Linked DNA regions of Homo sapiens: region 2 is linked to region 1. Evidence: fine-mapped QTL for protein levels in blood plasma. Region 1 holds a variant in brackets. A gene starts in the other region. All regions are shown on their reverse strands.

Region 1 (8,336 bases):
GAGAAACAGAATCCAGCCCAAAAGGCTTCTCTCTATCACTGGACAAGTCAAGATGGGAGATAGCAAGTCAGAAGACTCCACCAAGGAAAGTAGGCATATATTTTCTTGGGAGAATAGAAAGCAGGAAAGCTTGAAATATTAATAGGCCAGGACAGCAGTTGACAGAGGAGCTTGAAGGGGAGAGTTTTGATTTTAGAAGGAAAATATGATTTTTAAAAGTTCACTCTGCCAGCCAGGCATAGTGGCTCATGCCTGTAATCCCAGTGCTTTGGGAGGCCAAGGCGGGTCGATTGCTTGAGCCCAAGAGTTGGAGACCATATGGAATAAAATGGGCAACATGGTAAAACTCCGTCTCTACAGAAAATACGTAAAAAATTATCCAAGAACAGTGGCACATGCCTGTAGTCCCAGCTACTCTGGAGGCTGAGGTGGGAGGATTGCTTGCACCTGGGAGTTGAGGCTGTAGTGAGCTATGATCATGCCACTGCACTTCAGCCTGGGTGACAGTGAGACCCTGTCTCAAAAAAACAAAAAGTTTACTCTGCCATTACAAAAGTCTTGAAATTTTATAAGCTACCAAAAAATAAAAATAAGAAATAAGTCTCCGATAATTTCACCACCTCAAGACAACCAATAACCACTATTAACATTTTAGTGTTACTTCCTTTCAGATTTTCTCTGTGCATACTTTTACACAATTTTGATCATTCTTTATATAGAATTTTTTGGCCTAACCTTTTCATCTGTTAGAAATGCAAAATGCTTGTTCCCCAGTGCCATAAAGAAATAGCACTTGAACATAAATTTAATTCTCTCAGCAAGGCAATTTTTACTTTCTGCAGAAAGGGTGCCCATCACAGATGGAACAAAGACAAGAGCACACTTGAACAAAGGAGGTACAAAACATTTATATCTGACCCATCCAGACCCTACTGCTGTGTCCTGATTCCATTGGCTGGAACTGGACCTGACAGTCTAGGCAGCACCCAGTTGGCTAAAGGTTTAAAACTTTTTCTAAAGAGGTAATGGCAGAGGAGAAGAAAGGAAAAGAGGAAGTTGCTTATGAAAAGACTCAGAAAAGTAATAACATTCCCAAATAAGGAAGGGGCATAGGCTGCAAGCTGTGACATGCCTGTGCACAGGTCTAGCACAGATATCTTGGTTAAAGTACAGGGACATAGAATGTATTTAATTTTCTTACATTTAATAACTACATAGGATAGGGCTTAACAAAGAGTTATTAGCACAAAGCAAGGAAGTTTGAAGGAAGTTAGTTTTTAAAAGAAACTATTATCTCTAACACTTATGATTTATTCTTTAACAAGAAGGGAAATTTTGAAGAGGAACTTTTTGCTTTCTACATCACCCAATGTTGTAGGCATTTTCCATGTTGTAGAAAACTCTTAAAACATTTTAGGCCAGGCACGGTGGCTCACACCTGTAATCCCAGCACTTTGGGAGGCCGTGGCAGGCAGATCACGAGGTCAGGAGTTTGAGACCAGGCTGACCAACATGGTGAAACCCCATCCTACTAAAAATACAAAAATTAGCCAGGTGTGATGGCGTGCGCCTGTAATCCCAGCTACTCAGGAGGCTGAGGCAGGAGAATCACTTGAACCTGGGGGGCGGAGGTTGCAGTGAGCCAAGATCGCGCCACTGCACTCCAGCCTGGGTGACAGAGCGAGACTCTGTCTCAAAAAAAAAAAAAAAAAAAAAAATCTTAAATGCTATATTATACTCCTAACTTAAGGAGGTATCACATGTACTTTAATTTTACTGTTATAAATAGCTTGCATACACACAGGGAAGTGAGGTAAGGAGACCACACTCATTTTACTCCATTTGGATGTACAATTGATCCAGCATCATTTACTAAAAATACCAAACCTTAAGTGTTCATCTCAATGAATCTTTATAGTATGAAATATTTCTAGCACCCCAGAAAACTCCTTTGGGTTCCTCTCAGCCCACACCCCACCCCTACCAAAGTAACCACTGTCCTGACATCTGTCATGATGGAATACTTTTGCCTGGTCCTGAACTTTGTATAAATAGAATCAAATAGTAGGCATTCTTGGTTTCTGGCTTGTTTTTTCAACATAATGTCTGTGAGAAACATCCATGTTGTCACATTAGTTTCTTTTTTTATTGCTGAGAAGTATTCCATTGTGTGACTAAAGCACAATTGATTTATCCATTCTCCTGTAGATGGATGTGTGGATTGATTCCATCCGGGGGCTACTGCAAACCAAGCTGCTATGAACATTCTTGCATATATTGTTTGGTGGTTACCTGCATTCATTTCTCTTGGATACGTACCTGGTTTTGTCATAGGGTAGGCATATGTCTAGCTTTAATAGATTCTACCAGTTTTTCAATAAACTCTCCTATCATCAGTATATCAAAGTTCCAGTTGCTCTGCATCCTTGCCAATACTTTTTAAGTTTTGCCATTCTGCATATGTGTAGTAAAACATAATAATGGAGGCCAGGCACAGTGGCTCACGCCTGTAATCCTAGCACTTTGGGAGGCCAAGGCAGGTGGATCACCTGAGGTCAGGAGTTCGAGACCAGCCTGGCCAACACAGCGAAACCCCGTCTCTACTAAAAATACAAAAATCAGCCGGGTGTGGTGGCATGGGCCTGTAGTCCCAGCTACTCAGGAGACTGAGGCAGGAGAATCGTTTGAACCTGGGGGCAGAGGTTGCAGTGAACTGAGATCGCACCACTGCACTTCAGCCTGGGGGAAAGAGCAAGACTCCATCTCAAAAAATAAATAAATAAATAAAAATAATAATAATGGCTTTAATTTTGCATTTCCCCAATATCAAATGATGTAGACCACTTTTTAGATTTGTGTTGGACCACTTAGATATCCTCTTTACAGTATGTCTTCTCCTTGTAGATTTGTTGTCTTTTTCTAAAATATTCTGAATACTAGTCTTTTTTTGGATAAATGTATTGTAAACATGTTCTCCCATTCCATGGTTTGTCCTTTAATTCTTTTAATCTTGTATTTTGATGAACAGAAGTACAGAAGTTCTTAATCTTAAATAAGTCCTAATTTGTCAGTTTTTTAAATTTCATAGTTAGTGATTTCTGTGTTCTGATTAAGAAATTTTTGCCTACAAGGTTGTGACAATATTCTCCTATATGTTTTTCTAAAAGTGTATTGTTTTACCTTTCAAATCTAGGTCTATGATCCATTTGGAATTAATGTTGGTATAGGATGTGAGAGAAAAGTTCATTTTTTCCATATAGGCATGCAATCGATCCAGTATTATTTGCTAAAATGACCATCCTTTGTCCCTGAATTCCAGTGGTATCTTTATTATACATCAGGTGATTATATATGTGTTGGCCTCCTCCTGAATCCTCTATTCTTTTCCATTAGTCTATTTGTCTAATCTGGAGCCATTGTCATACTGTCTTAATAATGTGTGAAAGGAGGTTGGGTGCGGTGGCTCACGCCTGTAATCCCAGCATTTTGGGAGGCCGAGGCGGGTGGATCACGAGGTCAGGAGATCGAGATCATTCTGGCCAACATGGTGAAACCCCATCCCTACTAAAGTACAAAAAATTAGCTGGGCATGGTGGCGGGCGCCTGTAGTCCCAGCTACTCGGAGGCTGAGGCAGGGGAATCGCTTGAACCCGGAAGGCGGAAGTTGCAGTGAGCTGAGATCGCGCCACTGCACTCCAGCCTGGGCGACAGAACGAGATTCTGTCTCAAAAAATAAAAATAAAAAAATAAATAATAATAATAATAATAATAATAATAATGTGTGAAAGGAAACTATCTTAAACCCCCAGAATCACTAAGCTAAAGGGAAAAGTGAAGCAGAGAACTGCTTAGGGCAAACCTGCCTCCCATTCTATTCAATGCCACCCCTCTGCTCACTGAGATAAATGCATATCCTTTTGCCTCTTTTGGAGAGGCTCATCAGAACCTCAAAAGAATGTAACCATTTGTCTCTTATCTACCTATGACCTGGAAGCCCCCTCCTGGCTTTGAGACTTGTCCCGCCTCTGCGGACGGAACCAGTGTTCATCTTACGTATGTTGATTGATGTCTCAGGTCTCCCTAAAATGTATAAAACCAAACTGTGCTCTGACCGCCTTGGACATATATCAGGACCTCCTGAGGTTGTGTTGGGTGTGCGTCCTCAACCTTGGCAAAATAAGCTTTCTAAATTAACCGAAACCTGTCTCAAATTTTGGGGGTTCACAAATGGGAACTTTTTTTGAGACAGGGTCTCACTGTCCCCCAGGCAGGAGTGCAGGGACACAATCTGCAGCCTCAACAATGATCTCCAACAATCCTCCCACCTCAGCCTCACAGGTAACTGAGACTACAGGTATGCGCAACCACACACAGCCAACTTGTTGTTGTT[G/A]TAGTTGTAGAGATGTGGTTTTGCCATGTTGACCAGGCTGGACTTGAACTCTTGGGCTCAAGTGATCCACCCACCTCAGCTTCCTAAAGTGCTGGCATTACAGGCATGAGCCTCCACACCTGGCCAATAATGGGAACTTTATACTAAATCTTGCTATCTGGTATTATAAGTGTTCCAACTTTATTTTCTTTCAGAGTTTGTCTTGACTATTCTAGGTCTTTTCCATTTTATGTAAATTTTAAAATCAACTTTCCAATTCTCACAAAATGTCCTGATGGGATTTTTATTGGGATTACATTGAATCTCCAGATCACTTTGGGGAGAGTTGACATCTTGACTCTGTTGAGTCTTTCGAGTAATGCACGTAGCATCTCTCTTCATTTATTTAGGCTGTCTTTAATTTTAATGCCTTGTTCATATTGATACAGACCTCTGGCACCTCTTTCATTAGATTTATTCTTAAGCATTTGATGTTTATGTTATTGTAAATGATATTTTTTAATTGATTTAAATAGTATAGGAATAAATACCTCAGTAGCCATGAAATGAGAACCCTGGATTTTCACAAGAGTATACATGACCTTCAAACAGAATGGAGAGTGGACTGTTGAATTCAGAACAGCACATGTTGTTCAGAATTGCAGTTTATCTTGATAAGAAAATTAAACAAAGACATTCACATGATTACACCTATTTCTAGAATTTCTCCTTTTTTTCACAGTCACCAGGACCAGGGGCTACAGGGTCCCACGGTGCCTGGAACATAGGCATTGCTTCCCAGTTGCACTGCCTTACGGTCAGCAATTCTCTTCTCCAAAACTGAGCCACTGGCAGACACACATATTGATATTTTGTACCATACACATTGATATTTTAAGCTTTTTAAGAGCTTCTTAAAAGTAGGATCATCCCTGACAGTTTGTAAATGAGGAACTTCCAAGATCCAGGCTGCTAAATCAAATATTATCCTCAGACCAGCTTCCTGTCAGCAAAGACAGCCAACCAAGGTGGGAAACCCACACAGCCTGTCAAAACTTACAAAGAAATGCTGCCTTTCCCAGCATGAAACTGGTCAGATGTCAAAGGCATGAGGATATTAGTACGAGTGTAAAAACTGACTCTATATTCAAAAGAATTCATATCAACCTTCCTTAATTTCTTCAACCTACCACGTTTGTGGGATGGGTCCCAGGAAACAAGGTAGGACCAAGTCGGTGTTTTTTCATTCACCCTTATCTCCATGGCCCAGCAATGCCTGGCATACAACAGAGGCTCAGTCCGGTTGGTTGAATTGAATGGGGGATAAACATAGCCTCTGCCTTCAAAGAGTTCAGAATAGGGGCAGAAATAAAAACTGTAACACGAGTAAGTAATGCCTGTATTGTCATCTTCTGTCTGCAGTGGAGAAGATCCAGCCCTCAGAAGCATAAAAGCTGTCCGCAGAACCAGCCCTGCAGGTACTTTAGGAGAAAAGCCAGTCAACTCCTAGTAATAACAGGTAACATTGGGAGGGTTCTGTGTGCCAGGCACTGTGCTATGTGCTTTCTGTGTATTTACTCATTTAATTCTTCAACAGCCCATAAGCATTGGGTCTTTTTATTATCTAATAATCCCGTTTTTTATAAATGGGGCACAGAGAGGATAAGGAACTTGTTCAAGGTAACACAGCTAGCAAAGAGAGGAGCCAGGATTCAAACCCAGGCCAAGCCCTTGACCACCCTGGGGTGCTACCTCTCCCACATGACAAACTACACAGAATTCTCAAGACTCCCTCACATGTGCTGGGCACAGTGGCTCATGCCTATAATCCCAGCACTTGGGAGGACATGCTGGAGGATTGCTTGAAGCCAAGAGTTCAAGGTGAGCCTGGGCAACATAGGGAGATCCATCTCTACAAAAATAAAAAAATAAGAAGTTAGCCAGGCATAGTGGTATGCACCTATAGTTCCAGCTACTCAGGGGACTGAGTGGGGAGGATCACTTGAGCCTGGGAGAGGCTGCAGTGAGCTCTGATTGCGCCACTGTACTCCAGCCTGGGCAACAGATCAAGACCCTGTCTCAAAAATAAAATAAAAAAGATTCCCTCACATAATCAGCATCAAGGGCTCACCATTAGAGTCACTTTTAAGGGTCATCTGGAGACAGATCTTTCACTGGGTTAAGGCATTTCTTACCTGGAAGGGATAACAAACTTGCTAGCTAACCACATTAGCCAGGCTAAGGGTGTCAATTGTACATGGCTATGGAGGCCCATTAAGAACCTTGTGTATCAGATTTAAACCATGACTGAGGCAGTGATGCCCAGCAAAGAGGATAAGGAGGACCTTAAAGCACTGGCACCCAAGGCTGGAGAAGCCTGAGGCTGCAAAGAATTGAAGGTTTTCTCCAAGCATGACCCCTGTGTTGGCCTTGGGGGCCCTGGAGCAGTCTGAAACCATGTGGACCATGGCTGGGAAGCACGTTAGGAAACAGATCAAGTAAACTACCTGACAAAGCATTTGGGCAAGAGTGCCCTGGGTGCCAGCCAGATGCAGAGAGGAGTTGAACCATGCACCCTGGTCATAGGACAGATCTTCAGAAGGAATGGAATTTAAATGGAGCTCTGCTTTTCAGCAGTCAGTGCAAGAAATCAGGGACTTGCATAAACTTGCCAAGCCGCAAAGCAAATCCCCTTCCACTGAAGAGGTGCTGGGCTTGTCGTAGGATGTGACCCACTGGATGCTGGCAGGCGGTTCTTCTGAGAGACTGAGAGATGCTGGAAAACTCAGCATCTCAGTGAATGACTGGAAGAACAAGGGAGTAAAAGAACATGAAGGTGGGCCACCCTATTCACACACACACACCTATGTGTGTATAGATATTTGTATATATGTGTTTTTATTTTTAAATGATTCTGTCAGGGTCTCAGATAGAGGTGAAATTCTAACCTACTCAGAGTGATTTCTTTTAGGTTCCCAGACCTGGGATCCACATTTTTTGCTCTACTGAGGTAGGAAGGTGTCACTAGATCCATTAAGAACTGCAAATTCAACATCTGTGAGAATGGTTGAAGCTCAAAAGACTGGCCAGCTTCTCAAATACCCAGTGACTGAAATACGTAACTGGCCAGCTTCTCAAATAGCCAAGGCAGTGCCAAGGTTACTACTCAGGAGAATGTCTTCCATGTGCCTGGGGCAGACAGGAAGTGTTCTGACCCTCTGCCCACAGCTTTGTTCCTGTACCCACCAACTCAAGTGATTAATGGGGTGGCAGGTGGTGCAGCAGCCAAGTGACCTTCACACACTGTAACTCCTTTTGTTTCCTATGGGACACTTTCCAGATGGGGTTTTCAGCACTCAGGAAACCTCTTTGTGGCTGGCAGTAATGCAAGAAGTGCAGTGTTTATCCATTTCCTCTCCTGAAGCCCTGCCCTTTGGAGCCTCGTCCTTGTATTGCTGCCCAGGTATTTCACAAATTCCAGATCATTCCCACACTGTTCCTGCACACACAGCGCTATGCCCTGTCCCCTGCTGTCCTCTTGCATGTGACAAGCCACAGTGACTTTATTTCCTATGTGTCTAACCACAAGGCTCTTACAGAAATTTTCCCTGGCTGCCAAGACTCATTCAACATCATAGGTGGCCCAGACTAGAGGGTAGGTAACATTATCATCTCAGAATGTTCTTATGGTGTGTTGGGACCGGAGGTCTGTACCTGGAGGAAAAAGAGAAATCCTGAAACATGTTTTAGCCAAGTAGTAAGCACATAACATCTCTTCCAAGCAAATATAAAACTATAGTAGACCTCAATCTGTCTTCTTTATTAGCTAGGATTAAATTTGACTAAGTGACTTAACAGGGATTAAAGCACACAAGGTCCCAGCCTGGGCAACAGAGTGAAACCCCATGCCTACAAAAAATACAAAAATTAGCCAGGTGTGGTGGCACACACCTGTAGTCCCAGATGC
Region 2 (8,288 bases), not on the chromosome of region 1:
AATTTGACCAAATGTGTATAGAACTTGTATGCTGAAAACTATACAACATTTATGAAGGAATCAAAGAACAACTAAATAAATGGACATATATACCCATGTTCATGGATTGGAAGACTTAATAGTAAAAATGTCAGTTCTCGAAGAATATACATGTTTAATGCAATTCCTATCATAATCCCAGCAAAATTTTTAATGAATATAAACAAGGTTATTTTAAAATTTATATTGAAAGGTGAAGGAACTAGAATCGTTCAAAGAATCTTGTAGACTGAGTGTGGTAGCTCACATTTGTAATCCCAGTGCATTGGGAGGTCACAGTGGGAGGGTGGCTTAAGGCCGGGAGTTCAAGACCAGCCTGGGCAACATGGAGAGATTCCTTCTCTACCAAAAAAAAAAAAAAAAAAAAAAAAAAAAAAAAGTCTTGTAAATGAAGAATAAAGTGAGAGGAACCAGCCTATTCAATTTCAAGATTTATAGAGAACTTCAATAATCAAGACTGTGTGGTATTGGTGGAGGAATAGACACAGACCAAAGAAACAAAAGAGAGAACCCAGAAATAGACCTGTACAAGCAGGCAGCTGAATTTTACAAAAGTGCAAAAGCAATTCAGTGGAGGAAAGGCAGCCTTTTCAACAAACTGTGCTGGAGCAATGGGACATGTAGAGACAAATGAACCTTGATCTAAATCTCACACTCCAGACAAAAAGTAACTCAAAATAGCTTACAGACTTAAGCATAAAATGTAAATCTATACAACTTTTAGAGAAAAACACAGGAGAAAATCTCTTGAGGTAGGACTACACAGAGTTCTTAGACTTGACACCAAATGCATAATCCATAAAACAAAAAATTGATAAATTGTTTCTGATCAAAATGAAAACTTTTGCTCTGCAAAAGACCTTGTTAAAAGGATTAAAAGACAAGCTACAGACTGGAAGAAAATATTTGCAATCACACATCTAGTATCTAGTAGACTAATGTCTAGAATATACCAAGAACTCTCAAAACTCAACAGTAAGAAAACAACAAGCAAACAATTAAAAAATAGCCAAAGGCTGCAATGAACGGAGATCGTACCAACGCACTCCAGACTGGGTGACAGAACGAGACCCTGTCTCAAAAAAAAGAAAAAAGAAAAGAAAAGAAAGAAAGAAAATAGCCTAAAGGATGGGCGTGGTGGCTCATGCCTGTAATTCCAGCACTTTGGGAGGCTGAGGCCGGTCAGATCGCCTGAGCTCAGGAATTTGAGACCACCCTGGGCAACATGATGAAACCCCGTCTCTACTAAAATACAAAAAGTTAGCCAGGTGTGGTGGCCTGCACCTGTAGTCCCAGCTACTAGGGAGGCTGAGGCATGAGAATTGTTTGAGCCTGGGAGGTGGAGGTTGCAATGAAACAAGATGGCGCCACTGCACTTCAGCTTGGGCTACAGAGTGAGGCTCAGTCTCAAAAAAAAAAAAAAAAAAAGGGGGGTGGGGGGCAAGAAAATAGCCGAAAGACAAGAAAAGACATTTTACTGAATGGGATATATAGATGGCAAATACGCACATGAAACAACATTAGCCATTAGGCAAAAGCAAATTAAAAACCACAGTGAAATATCATCACTACACACTTAACAGAAAGACTAAAATTTTTAAAATGGTGACAACACTACATGCTGACATGAATGCTGAGAGACTGGTTCTCTCCTACACTGCTGGTAGGAATGTAAAATGCTACAGTCACTCTGGAAAACATTTTGGCATTCTCTTTAAAAACTTGCAATTTCCCTACAGCTCAGCAATTGCACTCCTGGGCCCTCATCTCAGAGAATGAAGACTTAGGTTCACACAAAAACATGTACACGGAGGTTTACAGCAGCTTTATTCTTAATCAACAAACACTGGAAACAACGCAGATATCCTTCAGCAGATGACCTGTTAGACACACTGTGGTACTTCCATACTGTGGACTGCTACACCCAACCCACCTGGAATTATGCTGAATGAAAAGGTGAATCCTAGAGGTTATGTACTTTATGATTCTATTCATAAAATATCCTTGAAATGACAAAATTTTAGAAATGGAGAACAAATTAGCAGTTGCCAGGGGTTCTAGGGGAGTGAGGATGAGAGGGAAGTGGATGTGGCTATAAAAGCATACCACTTTGTGGGGTAGAGACGTTCTGTAGCTTGACTACAGATATTCTATCAGTGTCAGTATCCTGTTGTGATATTTACTGTGGTTTGTGAGAAGTTGCCATTGCAGGAAACTGAGTAAAGGGCACATAGCATCTCTCTTTATTATTTGTTACAACTGCATGCGAATCTACAATTATCTCAGAATAAGTTTAATTAAAAGAAAAAGCCAGATACAGAACAATACGATCTGTCTCTTAACTCCCAAATTCCCAGTTGGCTGGCCACACACCACAGTCTCAGTTCTGTCCATAACCAAGTTTGGGGGATCTCTTCAAGTTTGCAAATGTCACTTCTACTGAGATCCCTCTGACAACTTCAGTGAAGTCTCTCCTCAAAGCTTTTTTTTTTTTTTTTTTTTTTTGAGACAGAGCCTTGCTCTGTCGCTCAGGCTGGAGTGCAATCACTGCAACCTCTGTCTCCCGGGTTCAAGCGATTCTCCTGCCTCAGCCTCCCGAGTAGCTGGGATTACAGGTGCCCGCTACCATGCCCAGCTAATTTTTGTATTTTTAGTAGAGATGGGGTTTCACCATGTTGGTCAGGCTGGTCTCCAGCTCCTGACCTCAGATGATCCACCTGCCTGGCCTCCCAAAGGACTGGGATTACAGGCGTGAGCCACTGAGCCCGGCCTCTCCTCCAAATTTTCAAGCTGTGTATTTTAAATCATAAAATGTTAGAGCCAGGAACATTTGAAATAATGCCTTGATAAAAGCGTCCATCAGACCCCCGAGCACCCTTCCTTTCCATGAATTATAACCAACGGAAATCCGGTGCACTTAGCATGTCCAGCTTTGAGTGAAGCCCCCAAGCTTCCTGCCCCTGAGACTGCCGCCCCTAAACCTCTCTTGCATGGATTCTGTAGAGCTGCCCCGACCAGAAGTCACTTAGCCACTCCTCTGCTCCAGGCCTCGTGGCCTGCTGGAGGCCAGACAGTGGGTAAGTCACGCTCAGCAGTGCCTACAACTCAAGCCACTGCTCAAAGGCTGTTGTTTTATTTCTCAAGTTAGACCACAGGCTCTGTAGCAACTTGGGCCTCCTTGGACACACACAGTGTGACGCTGAGACACAGTCCTCAACGCTGCTATGGTGTAGAATTTTTTGCGGAGAAAGACAGGAAGGCCTCTTGAGGTCAGTGTGAGACAGGGACACTCCACTGGGGCATAGGTATATCACTCACAGGTTGAAGGTAGGTAGACTGAGGCTCAAAGAGCAAGCGGAGGAGCTAATGTTCAACCCAGGTGGTGTGGAGTCTCAGTCCAGTGGCCTTACCCTCCACGGCCACGTTGCTAGTTATACTGGACAGAGCTCAGACTGTGCCCTGGCCTGTGTAGATGCACCAGAGGTTTTATCTGGGGGTCACAGCCGCTGGGAACGGGAGAGTTGCTGGGGATTGCCAGGAAGGGACAAGGCATTTGTAGCCATGCACCATCTGCTTTTACACTACCCTAGAGTCAAGTGGACCCCCTCCAGCATTTTTTTTTCCCCGAGATGGAGTCTCACTCTGTCACCCAGGCTGAAGTGCAATGGTGTGGTATCGGCTCACTGCAACCTCTGCCTCCCGGGTTCAAGCGATTCTCCTGAGTAGCTGGGACTACAGGCGCATGCCACCACGACCGGTTAATTGCCCCTCCAGCATTGTATGTGTCTGACTGCAATGAAGTGTGAGTGTGTCTGTGTGCGACTGTGTGTGTATGATGTGAGTGTGTCTGTGTCTATGTGGGGGCCAGGTGTATAGTCTGCATATGTCTGTGCACCTCTGTGTCTCTGTGGGTTGTCTGTGCCTATGTCTCGGCTTGTGTGTGTGCATGCATGTGTGGTCTGTGTGTGTCTGTATGCATGTGGTATCTCTGGGATGTGTGTCTGTATGTCCCTGCGTGCAGTGTAGTGACTTTGGGAGTGCACATGTGTACACGTGTGGTGAGTGTGCGGCCCTGCGCGAGTTGTCTGTGTACGTGTGGTGCCTGTGGGTCTGTGTGCGCGCGTGTGCCCGTGGGTGTGGTGTGTCCTCCCGCGCTGAGGCTCCCATGAACCCAGCTCAGTTCAGGCCTCCCTGACAGTCCTCGGGCGGCCACCCCGGGGCGCGGCTGTCCACGAGGCGCGGAGGAGAGGAGTGCGTGGCTGGGTCGGCGGGCGGCGCCCCCGCTCCTCCCCGCGGGCCGGGCACACGTGGGCCCCGGGCGCCGCCTCCCCGCGCCGCCCGCCGCCCGCCGGGTCCCGCGCGTCCCCACCCACCTCGGGCCGCCCCCGCCGCCGAGCCGGCCCAGGGATAAAGTGGCGGCGCAGACGCCGCACCCTGTCGCCGCGAAGCCGGTCGCGCGCAGCTCGTCCCGGCCCTGGCCCGCCGCAAACGAGGATCCGCTGCGCTCGGGGAACGCGACAGCGGCGCTCGTGGCCCCGGTAACTGCCTCCCGGCCCCTGCCCCAGCCCGCCAGTGCCGCCGTCAGGGGTGGGGAGCAGCACTGGGGTCCCGGACACGCCCGGCGTGGGCTCCCGCTACCCATGTGTGCGTGTGTGTGTGTGCACGGTGTGTGTGCGCGCGTGTCCGAGTGTGCGCGCGTGTGCGCGCGCGCGCGCCCTCCCTGCTCCTTCGCACCAGCCCCCAAACCAACTTGTCCCCATCAACTCCATCTTTCTAGTCCCCACCTTCCCCGGTGCAGACACCCGGCGAAGCCCACCCGGTTTTCCCAGCGGCATTTCCGATGACAGCTTCGGGGCTACGTGTCCTGTGCTGTCGGAGACGCACAGGAAGCAAAGTTTGTGAGAAGCCTTGGGGGCGACTTTGCCTTGGGCACCCGCATTTGTGCGTCTGCGAGGTGCCTCGGTGTGCGCGGAGCTAGTTTCCCAGTTTCCCGGGCCCCTCCCTTCTCCGAGCCCCTCTAGCGATTTGTTTAGGAAAAGTGATGACATGAACTAGTAGTGGAGAATCGCAGCGCCGCTCCCCGCCCTGGGGAGGGAGGGGAGCCCCGGAGAGCCTGCCGGTGGGAGCTGGAAGCAGGCTCCCGGCTGAGCGCCCCAGCCCGAAAGGCAGGGTCTGGGTGCGGGAAGAGGGCTCGGAGCTGCCTTCCTGCTGCCTTGGGGCCGCCCAGATGAGGGAACAGCCCGATTTGCCTGGTTCTGATTCTCCAGGCTGTCGTGGTTGTGGAATGCAAACGCCAGCACATAATGGAAACAGGTTTGTCATGTATCCTTGGAATTTCAGATGGGAGGAATAATCTGAGTATCATCCACCTCATTATTGTGCCCACTTGAAACTGTTCCTTGGAGATTTTAAGATAGATGGGTCTTCTTGCAGCTGGGTCTTTGTACCCATAGAGCTGACTATAATTTCCACTTGATTACAGCTAAAATAGTCTTTAAGATGAAGTTTCCTGAAATGATTTAAAATAAACACAGATGGGAAGGGGGAAAAACTGTAATGAGGCACTTAAAAAATAAAGTGAGCATTTTCTTAAGAACAAATGGGATTTTTCAGTCTTGGAGAGGTTTGCAAGAAATGTATGTATGTTTTAAACCTTTGAAACAGAGGGGTTTTTTAAACTGCTTTTAAAAAAATGTTACTGACTCTGAACTAGACTTTTCTCTCCTATCCATACATGTTCTTGAGATATTTCTGACTTTGGAATATGTCACTTTTCCTTCTAGGACCTGAAGACCCTTCCAGCATGCCAGAGGAAAGTTCCCCCAGGCGGACCCCGCAGAGCATTCCCTACCAGGACCTCCCTCACCTGGTCAATGCAGACGGACAGTACCTCTTCTGCAGGTACTGGAAACCCACAGGCACACCCAAGTAAGTCTTCCCCAGAAAGTCACCCCAGGTGACAGGGGAGCATGGCCCCTGCTTCTCCTCTGGTCGTTATCATGTGCCATCTGGGGCGGGGCCGCTTTCTCTATGACCTACTTCCCCTGCCGTTTTAATGTTAGGCTGAGCAATGTTAACAAAGCTAAAATGTATACTTTATAATTTTTAAATTTAAGAAGCAGGAATTCTTTTTTCATTATAACAACTCAGATATGGATCCTACCGTATGGCAATTTTCAAAAATTCCACATGACTTTATTTTTTGTACTGGAGTTGATTTCCGGTTGTACAGGCATTCATTTAAAATCAAACCCGACAATTAAGGAAAATCCCCTAGATGGATGAGAAACCCGAAGTAATACATATATCTTCACCTTTGCTCACTTTTCCTGCTTGTTTCTGAGCTTCTGAAGATGGCATACATGTGTCACCAGGAAGAAAGGGGCCTGGGTATTTCCTTCTGATTCCTTGCCAGCTCAATTACTTTGTACATTTTCCATCAAGGATTTGTCTTGCTATTAGAAGCAAACATTGGGACTATACACAAGACAGCTGGTCTCCTGCTGCTGCTCCCTCCTCTTGGATGAAGCAGGAAAACCCTGCTTGTTTGTGTTATTTGGAAAAAGAATTTATTTGTGGTAACCAATTGGCCTGGTGACAAGAACATTTCCTGTTCCAGGGACATTTTACCTGTTTTGTAGGCCTCTTGTCTCCTAGGGATCATTGTGTGGTTGGATTATGTCTCTCTTTGTGCTCCAGTAATCACCCAACCCTCACACAGGTGTAAAATTTCTTCTCTGTCTTCATCAAGGTATCTATGATCCAGGGAGCTGCACGTTAAAAACACAGAGATATGGACTTTTAAAACCCGGCATAGAGTCATAGCTTCAGGGCAGCTACACAGACTGGCTATGGTTTCTCTCTAGTGTTTTCAAGTGGGTAACGTGCTGAGAAGAGTTCCTACCAGTTCTGGTAATACATTTCTTAAAGAATGTGTCTGTACGTGCATACGCATTAGAGGAAGTGGGGGGGTTGTTGAGCATTATGATGCTAATTAATCATTAATTCTCCACTCTGACTTAACTGGCTGTAGAATTGCTCAATCTTGGATTAATTTCTAACAGATTAGTGGTTTGTGGTAATTTGATCAATATACAGAAAGAAGACAAATAATTGAAAATAGAAGTTTTTAATGTCTGAGTCTCAGACTTGGGGGGCTTTGTTGGTTAAGTAGTGAGGTTGTCCTAGTTCGAAGTCAACAAAAATAAAGAGGTTCTGCAGTCCTGGCACAGGGGGAGGGTGGTGGGTGAGTGGGTTAGAAACGGTCAAGTTGGCTGCCCTGCCCTCCCTTCGCCTGCGGGTGGTTTTCACAATCTCTGTGCTGAAGTTGCATTGCAGGGAGCCCTCTCTGCTCCGTTGCTTTTGCTCTAGTTAGAGATGATAACTCAACTTCTTAATTTAAACTGAGCTGCCTCTTGGATGTCAGCGTCCGCCTTGTGGTGGGTGCTGATGGGCTTAAGAACAGAGGTGGATGGTTGAGGCAGTTCGGCCCCAGAATTTGGAAGAAACCTATGGGTCTAGAAAAGGTTAAGGGAAAAAAATATTGAGGGCAGGAGCACTGAAATAGAAAGAGCAACAGAACCATGAGCATGTATGAACACTTTCCATAGTGTTATCCTCAGTTTACCAAAGAGGAAGGGGCTGGCCAAGGTCCTACCTACCTGTCCTGCCCTGCCTCCAGCCCCTGGAGATGATGCAGAGGTCCTGGAGGCCCCTTGCCATGACTCATGTTAACCCTGTGCTTGCTGGATCTTGGGGCAGTCTTGGGGGTCCTAGGGTGGGGGCTCAGGGCAGAGGTTTGTGCCAGCCAGCATGAAACACCTCTGTATCTTCATAACCGAGACCAGCTGCTCAGCCTGCCTGCCCTCTTGCATGATCTGGGAGACCCCCGCAGCATCATTATAATAAGTATTATTATTATTGCCTGCACAGAATCATTCACTCTGCTTTTAGGAAGAGGGAGGGGACCTCAAGTCACCAGGGCTTCAATCTTTCCCCCCAGGCTTTTTACCCCTCTTCAGCAAAACTAGGGCCTCGCTTTGTGCAATCCTGTCTCCTCCCAGTTAGGAAGAAAGAAGGGAGGAAAAGCAAGGGGCAAAAAAAGAGGAGACTGAACCCTCCCCCACTACTGTACCAACTGTGGGCAAAACCTGGGTTAAGAGCACCTCATCTCCAGCCCCGCCTCTGCTATCTTTCTCATAGAGACCCTAGGGACCTCAGAAGCCACCCCGGGGGCCTGTGGATATCTT

Which allele goes with the higher level. Positions count from the first base shown, and alleles are read on the strand shown. Strength reflects both the effect of a copy and how common the allele is.
In carriers of allele A in region 1, the plasma level of the protein whose gene starts at base 5,146 in region 2 tends to be higher than with G alone (weak association).

What was found. A credible set is the group of variants that fine-mapping cannot tell apart. PIP is the chance, under the fine-mapping model, that this variant and not a neighbour inherited with it causes the effect. Protein levels are from antibody-based Olink assays in UK Biobank. Linkage for the fine-mapping came from a reference panel and not from the study's own genotypes, which makes the PIPs less certain.
Region 2: MGLL starts here. The variant in region 1 is the best candidate, but not a certain one, in a credible set for the plasma level of the MGLL protein (UK Biobank, PIP 0.62).

The regions. Positions count from the first base shown.
Region 1 is chr16:72,041,813-72,050,148 of GRCh38, reverse strand. No RefSeq gene overlaps it. Among named protein-coding and RNA genes, the nearest start is that of HP, 8.5 kb to the left of the region's middle. The variant G/A (reference allele first, on the strand shown) is at 4,391.
Region 2 is chr3:127,819,373-127,827,660 of GRCh38, reverse strand. It overlaps MGLL (monoglyceride lipase), which reads left to right and starts at 5,146. Exons shown (of 8, transcript NM_007283.7): 1 at 5,146-5,352; 2 at 5,823-5,967. The coding sequence starts at 5,343. RefSeq lists a silencer at 4,185-4,704.